Homo sapiens: one gene and its partners. The protein of the gene in region 2 purifies or fractionates together with the protein of the main gene of each other region. This does not show direct contact. Each region holds a gene or a part of one and is shown on either strand. Other genes may lie near its edges. The genes, in order: KANSL2, ZNF609, SETD1B and WRAP73.

Region 1 (3,356 bases), on a different chromosome or scaffold from region 2:
TCAAGACCAGCCTGGGCAACATGGTGAAACCCCGTCTCTACAAAAACTGCAAAAATAAGCCAGGCGCGGTGGCACACACCTGTAGTCCCAGCTACTCTGGAGGTTGAGGTGGGAGGATCCCTCAAGCTTGGGACGCAGAGGCTGCAGTGAGCCGAGACTGCACCTCTGCACTCTAACCTGGGTGGCAGAGCCAGACCCTGTCTCAAAAAAAAAAAAAATTCTAGGAAAATTCACAGAAACACAAAGTAGAAACGGAGAATAGTAGGGAACAGGGGAAAGGGAAAGGAGAGAGTTACTGTTTAAAAAGTACAAAGTTTCTGTTTGGGTTGATGAAAAAGTTCTGGAACAGAAAATGGTGATAGCTGTACAACATGGTAAATGTTCATAACACCACTGACTTGTACACTTAAAAACGGCCAGGTGCAGTGGCTCATGCCTATGATAACAACACCTTGGGAAGCCGAAGTGGGAGGATCACTTGAGGCCAGGAATTCAAGACCAGCCTGGGTGACACAGCAAGACTCCATCTCTACCTACCCACCTACTTACACACATACATACATAGGTTAAAAGAGTAAAATTTTGTTATGTATGTTTTACTACAATTAAAAAAATATTTTTTAAAAAAGCATATTCTCTGAGGCTACCTGTAATGAACATGTAAGTTCACCAGTGATTAATTTAAATATGAACAATGCTACGTTAAAATTAAATATTGCTGGGTAATACAAGATTGCCTGATTAATATCCTAACAGCCACAAAGCAAGCAAACAAGCTCCAACAAGGGAAAGGGAGAAGGTAGGAAGAAAGGAAGGACAACAGAAAACTCACAGTTCCTCTGAATGGCTAGGAAATATTATTTTGGTTAAGTCCCTATCCCGACAGAGCAACAACCTGGTTTTTTTTGTTTTGTTTTTTTTTTTTTTGAGACAGAGTCTCGCTCTGTCGCCCAGGCTGGAGTGCAGTGACGTGATCTCGGCTCACTGCAACCTCCGCCTCCTGGGTTCAAGTGATTCTCCTGCCTCAGCCTCCCCAGTAGCTGGGACTATGGGCGTGTGCCACCACGCCCAGCTAATTTTTTGTATTTTTAGTAGAGACAGGGTTTCACCATGTTAGCCAGGATGGCCTTGATCTCCCGACCAGTGATTGGCCCACCTCAGCCTCCCAAAGTGCTGGGATTACAGGCATGAGCCACCACGCCCGGCCAACTCCCTGGTTCTTAAGCCTAACATAGTTTTGCTCTGTAAAAAAAAAAAAAAAAAAAATGACATTACATTCTAGACTATGTTTCTTCCAACTGAATTGGCAATTCGCACTGGAATACTGAATAGCCAACAGACCACAAGGAAGACATCACTCTTAGCTCCTGTTTGAAACCAACAGCTACAGCAAACCATTGGTCTTGATTCAGGGCCTAAGGCAATACAAACTCAAACAATATATCAAACTAACTTTCATGCCACTGCTTTTCAAGAGTCTGGTGCTAAATTCTCCTTCTTCCTAAGAATTAAAAATATCCAGGAGGTTTGTACCCCCCTATGTTTAATCCAGTTTATAGATGCTCCGTGTTTCTATTCATCTAGCTTCACGAGAAGCTTAGTTCTACGCTTTTAAATAAATCTAAGAATTTGCAATCCTTTCCCATTTGTTGGTGTGCTAATCACCAAAAATGAGAATCACAACATCTTCACATTAAAGAATATATATAATTTTAAAATCTACTTAAAGCTGCTCAGGCCGGGTGCAGTGGCTCACGCCTGCAATCCTAACACTTTGGGAGGCCAAGGTGGGCGGATCATGAGGTCAAGAGATTGAGACCATCCTGGCTAACATGGTGAAACCCAGTCTCCACAAAAAATTACCAGCCTGGCCAACATGGTGAAACCCCATCTCTACTAAAAATACAAAAATTAGCCAGGCGTCTTGGCACATACCTGTAGTCCCAGCTACTCAGGACACTGAGGCAGGAGAATTGCTTGAACCCAGGAGGCAGAGGTTGCAGTGAGCCGAGACTGCACCACTGCACTCCAGTCTGGGCAACAGAGCAAGACTCTGTCTCAAAAAAAAATAATAAAATAAAGCTGCTCAATTTAAGCAGAAACATAGGGCACAGGATACACTCAACCTACCATTCATTTTCAGGTGAGTTGGAAACTTCTGTACTACCCACAGAAACCAGTGTTCTCACACCATTAAGACTATAAATCTGTTTTCTCCCATTCTTTTACTATGTGCAATTTGTGTGTGTGTGTGTGCGTGCGTGTGTGTGAGACAGAGTTTCACTCTTGTTACCCAGGCTGGAGTGCAATGGCAAGATCTTGGCTCACTGCAACCTCCACCTCCTGGGTTCAAGCGATTCTCCTGCCTCAGCCTCCCCAGTAGCTGGGATTACAGGCGCGTGCCACCACATCCAGCTAATTGTTGTATTTTTGGTAGAGACGGAGTTTCACCATGTTGGCCAGGCTAGTCTAGAACTCCTGACCTCAGGTGATCTACCCGTCTCGGACTCCCAAAGTGCTGGGATTACAAGCGTCAGCCACCGCACCCGGCCCATGTGCAATTCTTACATAAACAATTAGCTTGGAATGGGCACGGTGGCTCACGCCTGTAATCCTAGCACTTTGGGAGGCCAAGGTGGGCGAAACACTTGAGGCCAGGAGCTTGAGACCAGCCTGGCCAACATGGTGAAACCCTGTCTCTACTAAAAATACAAAAATTAGCCAAGCACAGTGGGGCGCACCTGTAATCCCAACTACTCGGAAGGCTTAGACCGGAGAATCGCTTGAACCCAGGAGGCAGACAGTGCAGTGAGCCGAGATCACGCCAATGCACTCCAGCCTAGGTGACAGAGCGAGACTCTGTCAAAAATAATAATGACTAGCTTGGAATTATTTAAACACTGAATCAAAAGGCATCTAAATCTCAAGATAATAATGGAATGTGTATGTTTTCAGAAAAGGCTTTTCTCATATATACAAAGGGTTGTCTTTTATAAGATTTTAAACTGGGAAAAGGATCCTAAAATAAGAAAATCAGCAAAAATGCCTATTAAAACAGGAGTGTTTTAAAAATTGAAGTATCAGGATATAAAGAGAATCCATGTTTTCAGCTGGGCGCGATGTCTCATGTCTATAATCTCAGCACTTTGGGGAAGCTGAGGGGAGTGGATCACCTGAGGTTAGGAGATCGAGACCAGCCTGGCCAACATGGCGAAACCCCATCTCTACTAAAAAATACAAAAATTAGCCAGACATGGTGGCACACACCTGTAATCCCAGCTACTCGGGAGGCAGGAACAGGAGAATTGCTTGAACCCAGATGGTGAAGGTTGCAGTGAGCCGAGATCGTGCCACTG
Region 2 (4,865 bases):
ACCCAGGCTGGAGTACAGCGGTGCAATCACAGCTCACTGCAGCCTCAACCTCCTGGGCTCAACGAGATCTTTCTACCTCAGCCTCCCAAGAAGCTGGGACCACAGGCGTATGCCACTACACCCAGCTAACATTTTTTATATTTTTTGTTGAGATGGGGTTTTGCCATGTTGCCCAAGCTGGTCTCGAACTCCTGAACTCAAGCGATCTTCCCACCTCAGCCTCCTGAGTAGCTGGGACCACTGGCATGTGCCACTATGCCCAGCTAGCTGTATTTTTTTAAATTTTTGTAGAGATGAGTTCTCACTATGTTGCCCAGGCCACTCTCAAACTCCTAGGCTCAAGTGATCCTCCTGCCTCAGCCTCCCAAAGTGCTGGGATTACAGGTGTGAGCACCATGCCTGGTCCCAAATAATTTTTTACACAACTAATAGTACATAAATATTATTTGAGCACTTCTATCAGATATGTACAATAGGATTCCTTCTAGTTTGTTCTCATCCTTCTCTCACTAATAATCCCTAAGACCCATACATTTTTTCAAAAATGTTTATTTCTTTGGCAAATTTCTTAATACAGAGGCAGATATAGACTTTTGCACAATGAGCAACTCATGTCCTTTCATTAGAGTTAAAATAAATATTGAAAGGTTTGTTCCCACAGCCCTTGCCCAGATAGGCAAATTCTGTGGCTTTTTTGTTGTGCTATTATTATTGACCAGGAAGCCACCATTAAAAAGGTACTTGGTTCTTGACTTTTTTATTTTTTATTTTTAAAGAAACAGGGTCTTGCTTTGTTGCCCAGGCTGGTCTTAAACTCCTGGGCTCCAGCCATCCTCTGGCTTCATTCTCCCAAAGTGCCAAGATTACAAGCATGAGCCACCACACCTGGGCTTGACTCCCCATCTTAACACTGCACAGGTTTTTAGTGGTATTCGGAAACAAACAAAAATCACTGCATGAGTGTTCCATTCATATAAAAGAATTAAATATGATGATTCAACTAAGAGTAGAACCTTCCCTTGAAGTCTTCTTCCTTAAGGGTCTGAAACAAACATCGTAGTTGAGTCTACCAGACACTATTCCTTCACAACTTAGTACAGGCTAGCCAAAGAGGCAGGCACAACATGGCTGGCATCCCTTATTCTTCTGAAAAATGTGTGCCAATGAGCTCTGCATTGTTCCTCACTCAAAAAGAAGAGCCTTTCTCTCTGGCCTCCTCCAATGGCAAGCCCCAGTCTGGAAAAGGAAGAAAATGGCACTGAGGAGCCTGGGAGATGGAGCATATCCAAAGCTCTCAGACAAGACTTGAACCTATGACCTTCACTGTGTACACAATAGGCGGGTGAGAGGGACCGGTTTATCTCTGCTGCAGCAGTTCTCAGCCCTGGGGTAGCGCTCCCGATAAAATGACACGACTATTGTGTGTGGCAGCAGAACAGTCATCTCCTCACAACAGCCTAAACCAGCACTCCCTCCCCCAAGACAAAGCAGCAGGGGTGAAATTAACTCAAGGCTGCAGAGCAAAGCCTAATACAGAAAAGGGAGGCCTGTAGGGGCTTGGGGACTCTCCTCAACCCCTTAGGCTCTGGACACATGGCTGGAAACAGACAGGCTTTCTTCCCTATCTTTCTCACTCTCATTTAGGTAGGGAGCTGTTTCTTAGAGAATTTAATCATCCGTGATTTGTTCAGAAATATTCCCCCTGAAGGGCTCTGATCTCTCCACCCTGTGTGAGCCTAATTCCTCGAAGCTGAAATGACTGTTTGCTGCTGCCTGTTTCACAAACACACATTAATTGGTCAGATGTGTCTCCTCCTCCTCAACCCCAGAGGGAGGAAGGAGAATCTGAGCAAAGCACAGAGATGATCCAACCGTAATTACACATAAAGGGAAAAGAGGGCAGCATGGGTTTTCCAAACAGGATAGGGTCACAAACCCTCCCGGGGGTACAAGGATAGCAGTTGAGGTCCAGGCCCAGGGATCCCTCCATCTTGAAGAAAAGGACAGGAGTAAATGTGACCTGAAGACTGTTAGGGGCACACACCCACAACCTACTTACTGCAGGATCCCAGCCACCTTGCTCCCCACTCCTAGGTCACGCACACGTCCTGCTTCCGACCCTATGCTCTGAACAACCACCACCGCCCCCGCCCCCCCTCCCCCGCCAACTCCCTGACTGGCCCCAGTCGCCCCGAGCGCCCTCAACATACCCAGACTCGCCTCAGAAACTCTCTGGCCTGCTCCCATAACCTAGCCAGACCCTAATCCCCTCCCGGGCACCCCTACCCTCAGCCTGAACCGGCCGTGGCCACGCTTTGAACTTCACCCCGCGCCCCTCGACGCCCCCTCCCCCACCCACGCAACGACCCCCCCTACACACCTTCCCCTCGCTCCGCCCCAGCCCCCCCAACCCCCACTTCCTCCGTCAGGCAGCGCCGCCGCCCCCGGCCCCCATCAGATCCCCTCAGCCCCGCGCCCCATCGGTGCCGCCGCCTCTTTCCTCCCCCAGTCCCGGCTCCACACAAAGCTCCGGACTCACCGCGCGGCCGGTCCCGGGAGCCGCCACCTCCGCCCGCCCGGGGCCCCGGGCCGTAGAGCCGCCGCTGCTACGGGGCCCAGGCCGCCATCCGTTCCCGCGGCCCCTCCCCCCCACCCCACCCCGGCTCCGGCTCCGGCTCCGGCTCTGGCTCTCTGCCCCCTCCCCGCGCCTCTCCGCCCCGCCCGGCCGGTGCCGCTGTGTCCGGGGCCGCGGGTCCCTCAGCCGCCGCCACCGCCGCCGCCGCCGCGATCCGGGACAACCAGAGTCACCCGGAAGACGCGGACACTGGACTGCCAGGCCCTCGGATCCGGATTCCGCGCTTGTGTGGAGTCTGGAGCCGGTGAGCGCAGGGGAAACCCGGAACCTGGATGAAGGAGCGAAATCCTGGGTCTCGGAATGCGCGCTCACCCGGAGCCCAGATTAGGGAGTCTTAGCTCAGGGAATGCTGGAAAACCCGGCGTGCCGGTTAGAACCAAGATAAACTCAAAGAAACCTGGATTAGAGAGCTCGAACCTAACGCTGTCCCCTCGTGGGCAGTAGAACTCTCGCTGGATCAGACTTCCTCATAGAGAGGTCTCTGGGGGGAGTATTGCACCTTATAACACAGAAGACACCTCTTCTGTAGTTGTCCTTCAACCACAGAGAGGAAAGGGCCGTAGGGGATCTGAACATGGGCATCCACAAAGAACAGAAGAGCAATCACAGCTCCTGATGGTTTCATCCATTTTACCCCTTAGTTCAGCAAAGTACCAACCTCCTAATTTTTTATCCTTTGTTCTCCAGCTTTCTCTTTTAGGATTACCACTTGCTTTTCTCCCCAAAGCACCCATTTCTAATCCCTCTATATATCCCTTTTCCCCTCACCATCCTCTATCACTAAATCTTGTTGCCTTTTATTATCTAAAAACCTTATTCTGTCCTTCTCCAACCCACCATTCTAAGGATTGTAGCTTTTATTTTTCCTTATCTGCTATTCATCTCTGATTGCCCAGCATACTATCTAGTGCACAGTAGGCATTCAGTCCATGTTTAAGTGAGCCCTCCCACCCAGCTTTCACTTGTGAAACATCTATTCATGACGACCTCCTAAGACTTCCATCTCATTCCATAGCAAACAAATTTACCTTAATTCTCAAGGCCTCCCACATCCTAGCCCCTATTATGTCCTTCCTGTGTCCTTGACCATTTTATTTTGCTTTGCATTTATCTTACCTTTTTTCCCTTATCCTGGGGCATCCTTCAACAGTGCCACTCAAGATAGCATGTGACTTGGAGATAAAGTGAGGTCATAAAAAGGTGGGGGGAGGGGTTGATAGCTAAAGATAAAAGTAAACCTTTCTGGTCTAGGAAAAATAATCTCTCTTTGGTCCACCAATAGTCATGTTGTTAGACAGTACAGGGGCAGAACTGATCCCAGGTGACAGCGAACTTCCAATGTATACTAGACAAAGTTACAAGTGAGGATTCAGCTACTTAGCAGGTGGAGACAGAGAAGGGTTTAGTGTTTTAGACTTAGGCATGATTTAATTAAGGATTAAACATTCCAGTAGTCATCTCCCACTGAAGGAGCATGACTCTGCCATTGGAGAGAACTAGACTGCAAAAATAGGGAACAAAGGAAGGTAAACATTCCTGCAGTGAACTCCAAGTTTCAGCCAGAGAAAGTTCTCAAGCCTCGAAGAACCACTAAAAATTTTCAAGTGATCAGATGTCCCACATAGTAAACAAACCTTAAGTTTTGATTTACTGTTCCTCTAGACCAAGGGTTGGCAAACTGCATCTCACAGGTCAAATCAGGCTCACCACCTGTTTTAACATGTCCCATGAGCTAGAATGATTTTTACATTTTTAAACAGTTAAATAATCAAAATACTATTTCATGATGTGAAAATGATATGAAATTCAAATTTCAGGCCAGGTGCGGTGGCTCACGCCTGTAATCTCAGCACTTTGGGAGGCTGAGGCGGGCGGATCACGTGAGGTCGGGAATTCGAGACCAGGCTGACCAACATGGAGAAACCCCGTAAAAATACAAAAGTAGCCGGGCGTGGTGGTACATGCTTGTAATCCCAGCTACTTGAGAGGCTGAGGCAGGAGAATCGCTTGAACCCGGGAGGCGGAGGTTGCAATGAGCCGAAATCTTGCCACTGCACTCCAGCCTGGGCAACAAGAATGAAACTGTCTTAAAATACAAACAAAAAAATAGTTTTATTGGCTCTAGCCAAGCTCATTCATTTACATTATCATCTATAGATGCATTTTTACTACAACAGCAGAGTTGAACAGTTGAAACAAGGACTGCATGGCCTGTGTAAAGCCTAAAATA
Region 3 (4,092 bases), on a different chromosome or scaffold from region 2:
TCCTCCTCCTTGTCGGAGGCCGAGGACGAGGGTGAGGTGGTTGAGGACCCCGAGGATGATGACGCGGATGAGGACGAGGACGCCGACAATGACTCCTTCTCGTCCTCCTCCCCACCACTGTCCAGCTCCAGAGGCCGCGCCGGCCGCCGCCGCACACCCACGCCCTTGGGGTCCCGCTTGGCGAGCTCACAGGGGGTGTCTGCCATATCCCGGTCTCGCTCTCGCTCGGACTCTGCAGGAAGGGAGGGAGTCAGAGCTGGGCTGGGGGGATGCGGAAGAAGGGGACCCCAGCACCCAGAGCACGAACCTTCATCTTCCTCATCCACAGAGGTCGAGGGCCGCAGCCGCTTCTGGTCGCCAGATGAGGTGGTGTCTGGTGGCTCCTTCCTCTTGACCTTGAAGGAGGGCAGGCGAATGGCCCCACGCAGCCCAATGCCCAGGCCCAGGCCCTCGTAGCCCAGGCCCTCGCCCTTGCCCCATGACTCCAGCAGGCACGAGGCGATGCGGTCCTTGGGCTTCGGCCTGTCCTCGTCCTTGTGCTCGCCCGACTTCACCGGGGTCAGCGAGGCCTGGGGTGGAGACAGGAGGGGACCGTCACCGCTTCTGGCACCACCAACCCTTGCAGGGAGCCCTCCCCAGGCTACCTGCCTTCCACTCGGCAGTAACAGCCACCACAGGTAACTGCATCCTCATTCCCTACACACCTGGCCACACTATGCCGTTACCCACGAGGCTCTAGAGCACCGCTCTGCCTCATAGATCTCAATGTCCTCCCCTGTAGAATAGGACTACTGTACCTGCCTTCCTTACAACAGTGGCCTTTGCACTTTGCAGACAATCCAAAAACTACACCATAGGGACACATCTGTGCAACACCACCTTCACAAGGTAAGATTTACACTATCCCATTTTCTCTTCTCTTCCCATGCATTAAAAACAGGACCTACTGGCTTTATTTCACTGCTCACTAAGGGGTTGCCCCTGTGGTTCTGAAATGCTCTGCCTTCAAAGGGATGCTGTGAGAATTAACAAAACGAGCCACATGAAGAGCTTTGCAAGGTGCAGGGCACATGAGGCCTGGTGGCTCTTTTTATTCAAATTGTGAATGGAATAGCTATTAGCTGTTACTGTAGGGTCAGTATAATTTGGCTGAACCATAAAGAGCTGTGTATCAGTGATTTCAGACGGTTCATTCTAATTTTACTGCCCAGTTAAACGGATGACAAACAGGCTCTGACAAGTGCTGCTTACCTCTGTGGCAGAAAGCAAGCATTTCCCAAAGCAGGCTCCAGGGGACACTCAAACTCATAACCACGGTCGAGGGAGGGGAGCAGGGGGGAATGGGGTGGAGGGGAGGGATTAAGGGGAGTTTAAAGTATTCAAGAAAAAGTTCTCTCTTATGGAGAAAATAAGTAATTTTAGATTACCTGTAAGATTGCAAACAGGCAAATAATATGTTAAAAAGGAAAAAAGAGACCAGGCATAGTGGCTCACATCTGTAATCCCAGCACTTTGGTAGGCTGAAGCAGGTGGATCACTTGAGGTCAGGAGTTCGAGACCAGCCTGGCCAACAAGGTGAAACCCCATCTCTACTAAAAATACAAAAATCAGCCAGGCATGGTAGTGGGTGCCTATAGTCCCAGCTACTTAGGACACTGAGGCAGGAGAATCGCTTGAACCCAGGAGGTGGAGGCTGCAGAGGGCTGAGATCACGCCATTGCACTCCAGCCAGGGTGACAGAGTGAGACTCCATCTCCGAAAAAAAAAAAAAAAAAAAAGAAAGAAAAGAAAATAGTAAGTAGGCCAGGAGCGGTGGCTGACGCATATAATCCCAGCCCAAAAGGCAGAGGATCACTTGAGCCTAGGAGTTCAAGACCAGCCTGGGCAACGTGGTGAAACTCTGTCTTTACAGAAAAACACACAAATTAGCTGGGTGTGGTGGTACATGCCTGTAGTCCCAGCTACTTGGAGGCTGAGGTGAGAGGATCCCTTGAGCACAGGGAGGTTGAGGGTGCAGTGAGCTATGATTGCGCCACTACACTCCAGCCTGGACGATACAGCGAGACCCTGTCTCAAAAAAACAAAAAAAGGAAAAAAGTGGTCCAAGACAGGGCTCCGTGTAAAAGGCGGCATGAGGGGAGGTGAGGGGAGTCAAGTTCAAAGGGAGTCGCAGCTGTGAGCTGTCTGCAATGGGCGGGGGGGGCAGTCTGCACCAGCTATCCTGTGTACTACCACTAGGCACCTGTGGCTCCCGAGCACTTGAAATGTGGCATGTACAAAGGAGGAGTTTTAATTTTACTCTGTTTTAATTCATTTAAGTTAATTTGCACATTTATTTTTAGAGATGGGCTCTTGCTATACTGCTCAGGCTGATCTTGAACTCCTAGGCTCAAGCAATCCTCCCACCTCAGCCTCCCAAAGTGCTGGGATTAAAGGTGTACGCCACCATGCCTGGCCACTCATTTAAATTCAAAGAGCCGTGTGCATCTAGTGGCTGCTGAAGTGGAGCACAGTTTGCGGAACTTTGAAAGTGGCCACATGAAATGGAGCTCCCATAGTGGGGTCCACGGCAGCGTTTCCAGTTAACAGTCTCAGGGAAAGAGGAGGTGCCCGGCTGGGGACCTGCCCCCCTCCACAGCCACCCTGCAGAGCCCTGCACCCACCCACCCACCTTGGCCATCCGCTCCTTCTTGTCCCACCACTCGTCAAAGGCCCGGAAAGCCACCACTTCCACCATCTTGCGGTTCAGGTCACGCTTCATGATGGCCTTGAGTTCTTTGAGGACCACCAGCAGGACGCCATCCACCGTGGCTTTGTGTGGGTCCTCCTGGCGTGGCATGTAGCCTGGTGGAGGCACTGACGGGTCAAACTTGGGCAGTGGTGGCCAGTGCTGCCCGCGGCCTGGGCCGGAGTTGCTCAGGGAGAAGGGGCCCCGGTAGGGCGGCAGGTTGACAAACTGGAGCCCAGCTGAGGCAGCGGCGGCCGCAGCGGCCATGAAGGGCGGGTAGGGGCAGGCGCCCTGGCCCGTCATCAGCCGGCTGAGCACCTGCGTTTGCATCTGGAAGGACATGGGCATGCCGCCCCACTGGCCACCCAGCACGTGGCTCATGTCCACCTGCATCACAGGGAACAGGCCCGGCGGAAAGGGGGGCAGTGGTGGCAGGATGGGTGGGGGCGGGACTCCAGGCGGCGCTGGCAAGGGTGGTGGGGGCACTGTCACAGCAGGGTGGGCTGGAGGGGGTGGGGGCGGCGGTGGGGGCAGCGGTGGGGGCATGGGGAAGCCAGGCTGCGGTGGGGGTGGTGGTGGTGGGGGGGGCAGCGGGGGGAAGCCAGGTGGCGGGGGCAGCGGCAGGGTTGGGGCTAGCACAGAAGGGGCTGCCACGGCTGCCGCTCCTGGGGTCACCACCATGGGCTTGGGGCAGTCAGCGCTGGTGATGGGGGCCGAGGGCATCTCGTCATCCGAGATCTCCATGTCCTCGCCTGAGGACTGCTGGCCCTGCAGAGAGAGCAGGGAGAGACAGTGAGGTGAGTCTGGAAGGCCAAGGGGCTCTCGGAGTCCCCTCTGCAAGACTAGCAATCAGTGGCACTCCCAGCTGTGTGACCCAGTGCAAGCCATTCAGCCTCTCCAAGCCTCAGCGTCTTCATTTGCAAAATGGGCATCATAGTCCCTGCCTCATGGAGTTACCACTAGAATTCATTCATTCATTCCAATTCAACAAACATTTGCTCAGTACCTGTGTGCCAGGCACTGGTCTAGGTGCTGGGGACACAAAGTTGAAGAGGCAGGCAAACATCTTACTCTTGTGGAGCGGAGCCAGCAGGAAAAGGCAAAAGGATGATGAGGGTGAATACGGGAAACGTGAGGGAGAGAAAGAAGGCAGGGAGACGGGTGGGGCACAGAGGATGAAACTGTTGCAATTTCAGAGATTCTGTTGCAACTTGTGTGCAGAAATAGTTGCCACTTCCATAGTGTCTCTTATGTGCCAGGGCCTTTCTAAACGCTCCACATTTATTAACTCAGCTAATCCTCAGAACAGCCCTATTTTCAACTCCATTTTTGCCCCACGAGGAAACTGGGGCACAGAGAATTTA
Region 4 (4,092 bases), on a different chromosome or scaffold from region 2:
GTGTCACTCCTGCAAACGCTGCCAGGTTGTCAGTATAGGATATTAACAAATGATTTAATTTAAATGTCTACGCATCATCTCTTCTTACAACAGAAAAGAAAATCTGATGTCTGTAATTGTTTCTCCAAACAACATATACAGCGTTCAGGAGAGAAGTCCTGAACACACAGGTAGTGGATCAACGAGCTCCAGGGGTCACGTGGCAGCACGGAAGGGCTCCTGTGCTGATGCTGAACCCGAAACACACTGGCCGTTCTGGGGACCATGCCTCGGAACTCCAGCTGCACAGAGCACTTGCTCCTCTAACAGCTCCACAAGCTGAGGCCAAGGAGGGCGCTGGGGCCTGAGCGAGGAAGCGTGCTACTTCCCACCAGCGTGTCTGAGGCTGAAACCTTGCCCAAGCCTCTCAGACTCAGCAGGGTGGGTGCAGCGCCTGAGGCTCTGAGCATCAGCAGGGCGGGGTGGAGCGCCCGAGCATCTCAGCATCAGCAGGGCGGGGTGGAGCGCCCGAGGCTCTGAGCATCAGCAGGGCAGGGTGGAACACCCGAGGCTCTGAGCATCAGCAGGGCGGGGTGCAGCGCCCGAGGCTCTGAGCATCAGCAGGGCGGGGTGCAGCGCCCGAGGCTCTGAGCATCAGCAGGGCAGGGTGGAACGCCCCAGGCTCTGAGCGTCAGCAGGGCGGGGTGGAGCGCCCGAGGCTCTGAGCATCAGCAGGGCAGGGTGGAGCGCCCGAGCATCTCAGCATCAGCAGGGCAGGGTGCAGCAACGGAGCATCTCAGCATCAGCAGGGCGGGGTGGAGCACCCAAGCATCTCAGCATCAGCAGGGCGGGGTGCAGCGCCCGAGCCTCTCAGCATCAGGAGAGTCCATGTGCCACCCAGGGCAGAGACCTGCCCTCCAGAGCCTACTGCAGAGTCACAGGAGAAAAGCACATCTCCCACCTGTGGCCCTGCATCCCTGTGGGGTGCGCCTGGCCGAGGCTCCCCACTCAGGCACATCTTAGGAAACACAGGGAGCACTTTAAGCCTGATTTTTACCTTCATCTCACAAAAACAAAGAAACAAAAACCTTTAAAAGATAACTTTGCAACTTTTAAAAACCCAATAAGAAAAAAAGGTAGTTAAATATACACCTTCATCAGCGCTGTTACCTTCCACTGACCACTGGAGAAGCCAGCGGAGGAGACCCGTGGGATGGGCTCCACAGCACTCAGCAGCAGGAAGAAAGGACCAGAGGGATCCACATGACCCAGAGCACTCAGGAGGGAAGGAAGGGGCCGCTGATCCACGCTACGACCCAGTGTGCTGAAGACGGAAGGAACGGGCCACCGATCCACACCACAACTCAGCATGCTCAGGGTGAGAGGAATGGGCCACGGATCCAAGCCATGACCCAGTACACTCAAGACGGGAGGAACAGGCCACTGATCCATGCCACGACCCAGCACTCTCTCCACACCATGACCCAGCACTCTCAAGATGGAGGAACGGGCCACTGATCCACCCCACAACCCAGCACACTCAAAACCAGCAAGATGCCAGGGAAAAGGAAGCAGACGCACAGCTCCACGCACCATGGCTCTGTGCAGATGGGATTCCGAGTAGGCAGTGCTGCTCGCCCCGCAGCAGGCACCGGCTGCCGGACACAGGTGGGAGACGGACTGAGCACAAGGGGCACGAGGAGCCCCATGCCACGGGCGAACAGTCTTGGTCCTGATTGTGGCGGCAATGACGTGCAAAGTGACTCACTCAACTGTGCTCTTAAAGTGGGTGAATTCTCTTGCTTATAAATTGTTTTAATTGCCTTTATTCAGATATAAGAAAAAGTCTGCAGTCTGGATATATTTTTAAAGCTAACTATAGACTATTTACAACATACACACTCAAGTTTAAGGATGCAGAAATGTAGAAGGTAAAAGGATAGAAAAAGACATATCAAGAAAATCCTAACCAAGAGAAAGGTGGCACTGCCGCATTCGTACGGGATAAATCAGACTCTGAAACAAAAAGAACCGTGAGACATAAAGAGGAATACTTTACAACAAAAGGCCTGTGCCACCGCGGAATCATGGGAACCGCTTCACTAGGAAATCTGTTTACAAACAGTTAAAAGTTTGTATGCAGCTAACAACAAAGTCTCAAAAATACATTTAAAAATCTGGCAGAGCCGGGCGCACTGTTGTGCACCTGTAATGCCAGCTATACAGGAGGCTGGGAAGGAAGGATTGCGTGAGTTTAGGAGCTCGAGACCAGCCTGGGAAACAAAGGGAGACCCCAACTCTACAAAAAAATTGTTTTTAAAAAATCTGACAGACTACAAGAGCAATGAAGAGGAATCAGTCCCATCAGATATTCAAACACACCATAGAACCTCAATAATGTAGACAGTGTGGTGCTGGCACATAGGTGGACCAACAGTGGACTGGAATGGAAACCAGAAGTGATCCTGCAGGTATAATGGAACTGAGCTCCTGCTATAGCTGGTGAAGATAGCCTTCTAAATAAATGCTGCTGGGAGCTGGGCACGGTGGCTCACACCTGTAATCCCAGCACTTTGGGAGGCCGAGGCAGGCAGATCAACTGAGGTCGAGAGTTTGAGACCAGCCTGACCAACATGAGAAACCCCATCTCTACTAAAAATACAAAATTAGCCAGGCGTGGTGGCGCATGCCTGTAATCCCAGCTACTCGGGAGGCTGAGGCAGGAAAATCGCTTGAACCTGGGAGGCGTAGGTTGCGGTGAGCTTGGATCACACCATTGCACTACAGCCTGGGGGACAAGAGCGAAACTCCATCTCAAAAAAAAAAAAAAAAAAATGCTGCTGGGAAAAGGTAGAAATGGATTCAGACCCCACAGTGTGCCCCACTACGTGAACCTGCTTCATTTAAATGGAGCATGTGTGAGCGTCTGTGTGTAATGAAACAAGATAGGAAAGCACTCAACCTCACCGAGAATTAGGGAAACGCAAACTAAATCCAAACTGCAGTATCATTTAGTCGCCTGGATGGAATCATTGTAATCCTGCCACAAAAGCCTTGGCAAATGAAACCCCTCCGTCTGCTACGGCCAAGCAAGGCTCTCCTAGAGAGGCTCTCCGGGTATGTGCCCAGGAGACGGGGACAACACGTTCACAGCCACACCGTCCGTGGTGACGCACACGTCCAGCAGGCGAGGACTGAATGGCGTTCCTCACGAGGAAGGGAAGGCCCAGCGATGCCTGTCAACACGGAGGAGTCTAAAAGCAGTGACGGGGAACAGCAACAGCAGAGACTGCAAAGTACAAGCCCCTATAAATCAACTTTACACTGCACAGCAAGCAATGTGGTGTTTAGACACATCTGTACAGTGAGACTCAAGAACAGTGAGGATGTGATTCACGCAAGACGTGGGGCAAAGGTGCCCTCAGGTGGGGAGGGCATTGCTACGAGGAAGAGAAGGGCTCTGAAAGCGCGGCAGTGTTCCGCTGCAGGCCTAGGGGTGAGCCGCTTTTGATGACTCACTGAACCTCGTCTAATGGGCGCAAGCTTGCCTTTTCACGTTAAAATGCAAGAGGCAGGGACGTCTCCCATGCTCCACAGCACCCTCACGTGGGGTGGCGCCTTCGCAAGTGGACTCAGCGGCCCCACTAACCCCCGAAATGGGGTCGCGCCTTCGGAAGGGGACCCAGCGGCCCCGCTGAGCCCCGGACATGGGGTCGCGCCTTCGGAAGGGGACCCAGCGGCCCCGCTGAGCCCCGGACATGGGGTCGCGCCTTCGGAAGGGGACCCAGCGGCCCCGCTGAGCCCCGGACATGGGGTCGCGCCTTCGGAAGGGGACCCAGCGGCCCCGCTGAGCCCCGGACATGGGGTCGCGCCTTCGGAAGGGGACCCAGCGGCCCCGCTGAGCCCCGGACATGGGGTCGCGCCTTCGGAAGGGGACCCAGCGGCCCCGCTGAGCCCCGGACATGGGGTCGCGCCTTCGGAAGGGGACCCAGCGGCCCCGCTGAGCCCCGGACATGGGGTCGCGCCTTCGGAAGGGGACCCAGCGGCCCCGCTGAGCCCCGGACATGGGGTCGCGCCTTCGGAAGGGGACCCAGCGGCCCCGCTGAGCCCCGG

The links.
Region 1: the proteins of ZNF609 (region 2) and KANSL2 purify together in Homo sapiens (affinity purification with mass spectrometry, with the first as the bait; one large-scale study listed by BioGRID). This does not show direct contact.
Region 3: the proteins of ZNF609 (region 2) and SETD1B purify together in Homo sapiens (affinity purification with mass spectrometry, with the first as the bait; one large-scale study listed by BioGRID). This does not show direct contact.
Region 4: the proteins of ZNF609 (region 2) and WRAP73 purify together in Homo sapiens (co-immunoprecipitation; one large-scale study listed by IntAct). This does not show direct contact.

Annotation. Positions count from the first base shown.
Region 1 is NC_000012.12:48,655,365-48,658,720, forward strand, and holds part of KANSL2 (KAT8 regulatory NSL complex subunit 2), read right to left. Parts: intron 1,419-3,356; exon of another isoform or gene 1,284-1,418; intron 1-1,283. UniProt on the Homo sapiens protein: Non-catalytic component of the NSL histone acetyltransferase complex, a multiprotein complex that mediates histone H4 acetylation at 'Lys-5'- and 'Lys-8' (H4K5ac and H4K8ac) at transcription start sites and promotes transcription initiation.
Region 2 is NC_000015.10:64,458,513-64,463,377, reverse strand, and holds the start of ZNF609 (zinc finger protein 609), read right to left. Parts: upstream 2,801-4,865; 5' UTR 2,540-2,800; intron 2,355-2,539; exon of another isoform or gene 2,211-2,354; intron 1-2,210. UniProt on the Homo sapiens protein: Transcription factor, which activates RAG1, and possibly RAG2, transcription. Through the regulation of RAG1/2 expression, may regulate thymocyte maturation.
Region 3 is NC_000012.12:121,813,510-121,817,601, reverse strand, and holds part of SETD1B (histone-lysine N-methyltransferase SETD1B), read right to left. Parts: intron 3,497-4,092; coding exon 2,672-3,496; intron 570-2,671; coding exon 308-569; intron 233-307; coding exon 1-232. UniProt on the Homo sapiens protein: Histone methyltransferase that catalyzes methyl group transfer from S-adenosyl-L-methionine to the epsilon-amino group of 'Lys-4' of histone H3 (H3K4) via a non-processive mechanism.
Region 4 is NC_000001.11:3,639,943-3,644,034, forward strand, and holds part of WRAP73 (WD repeat-containing protein WRAP73), read right to left. Parts: intron 1-4,092.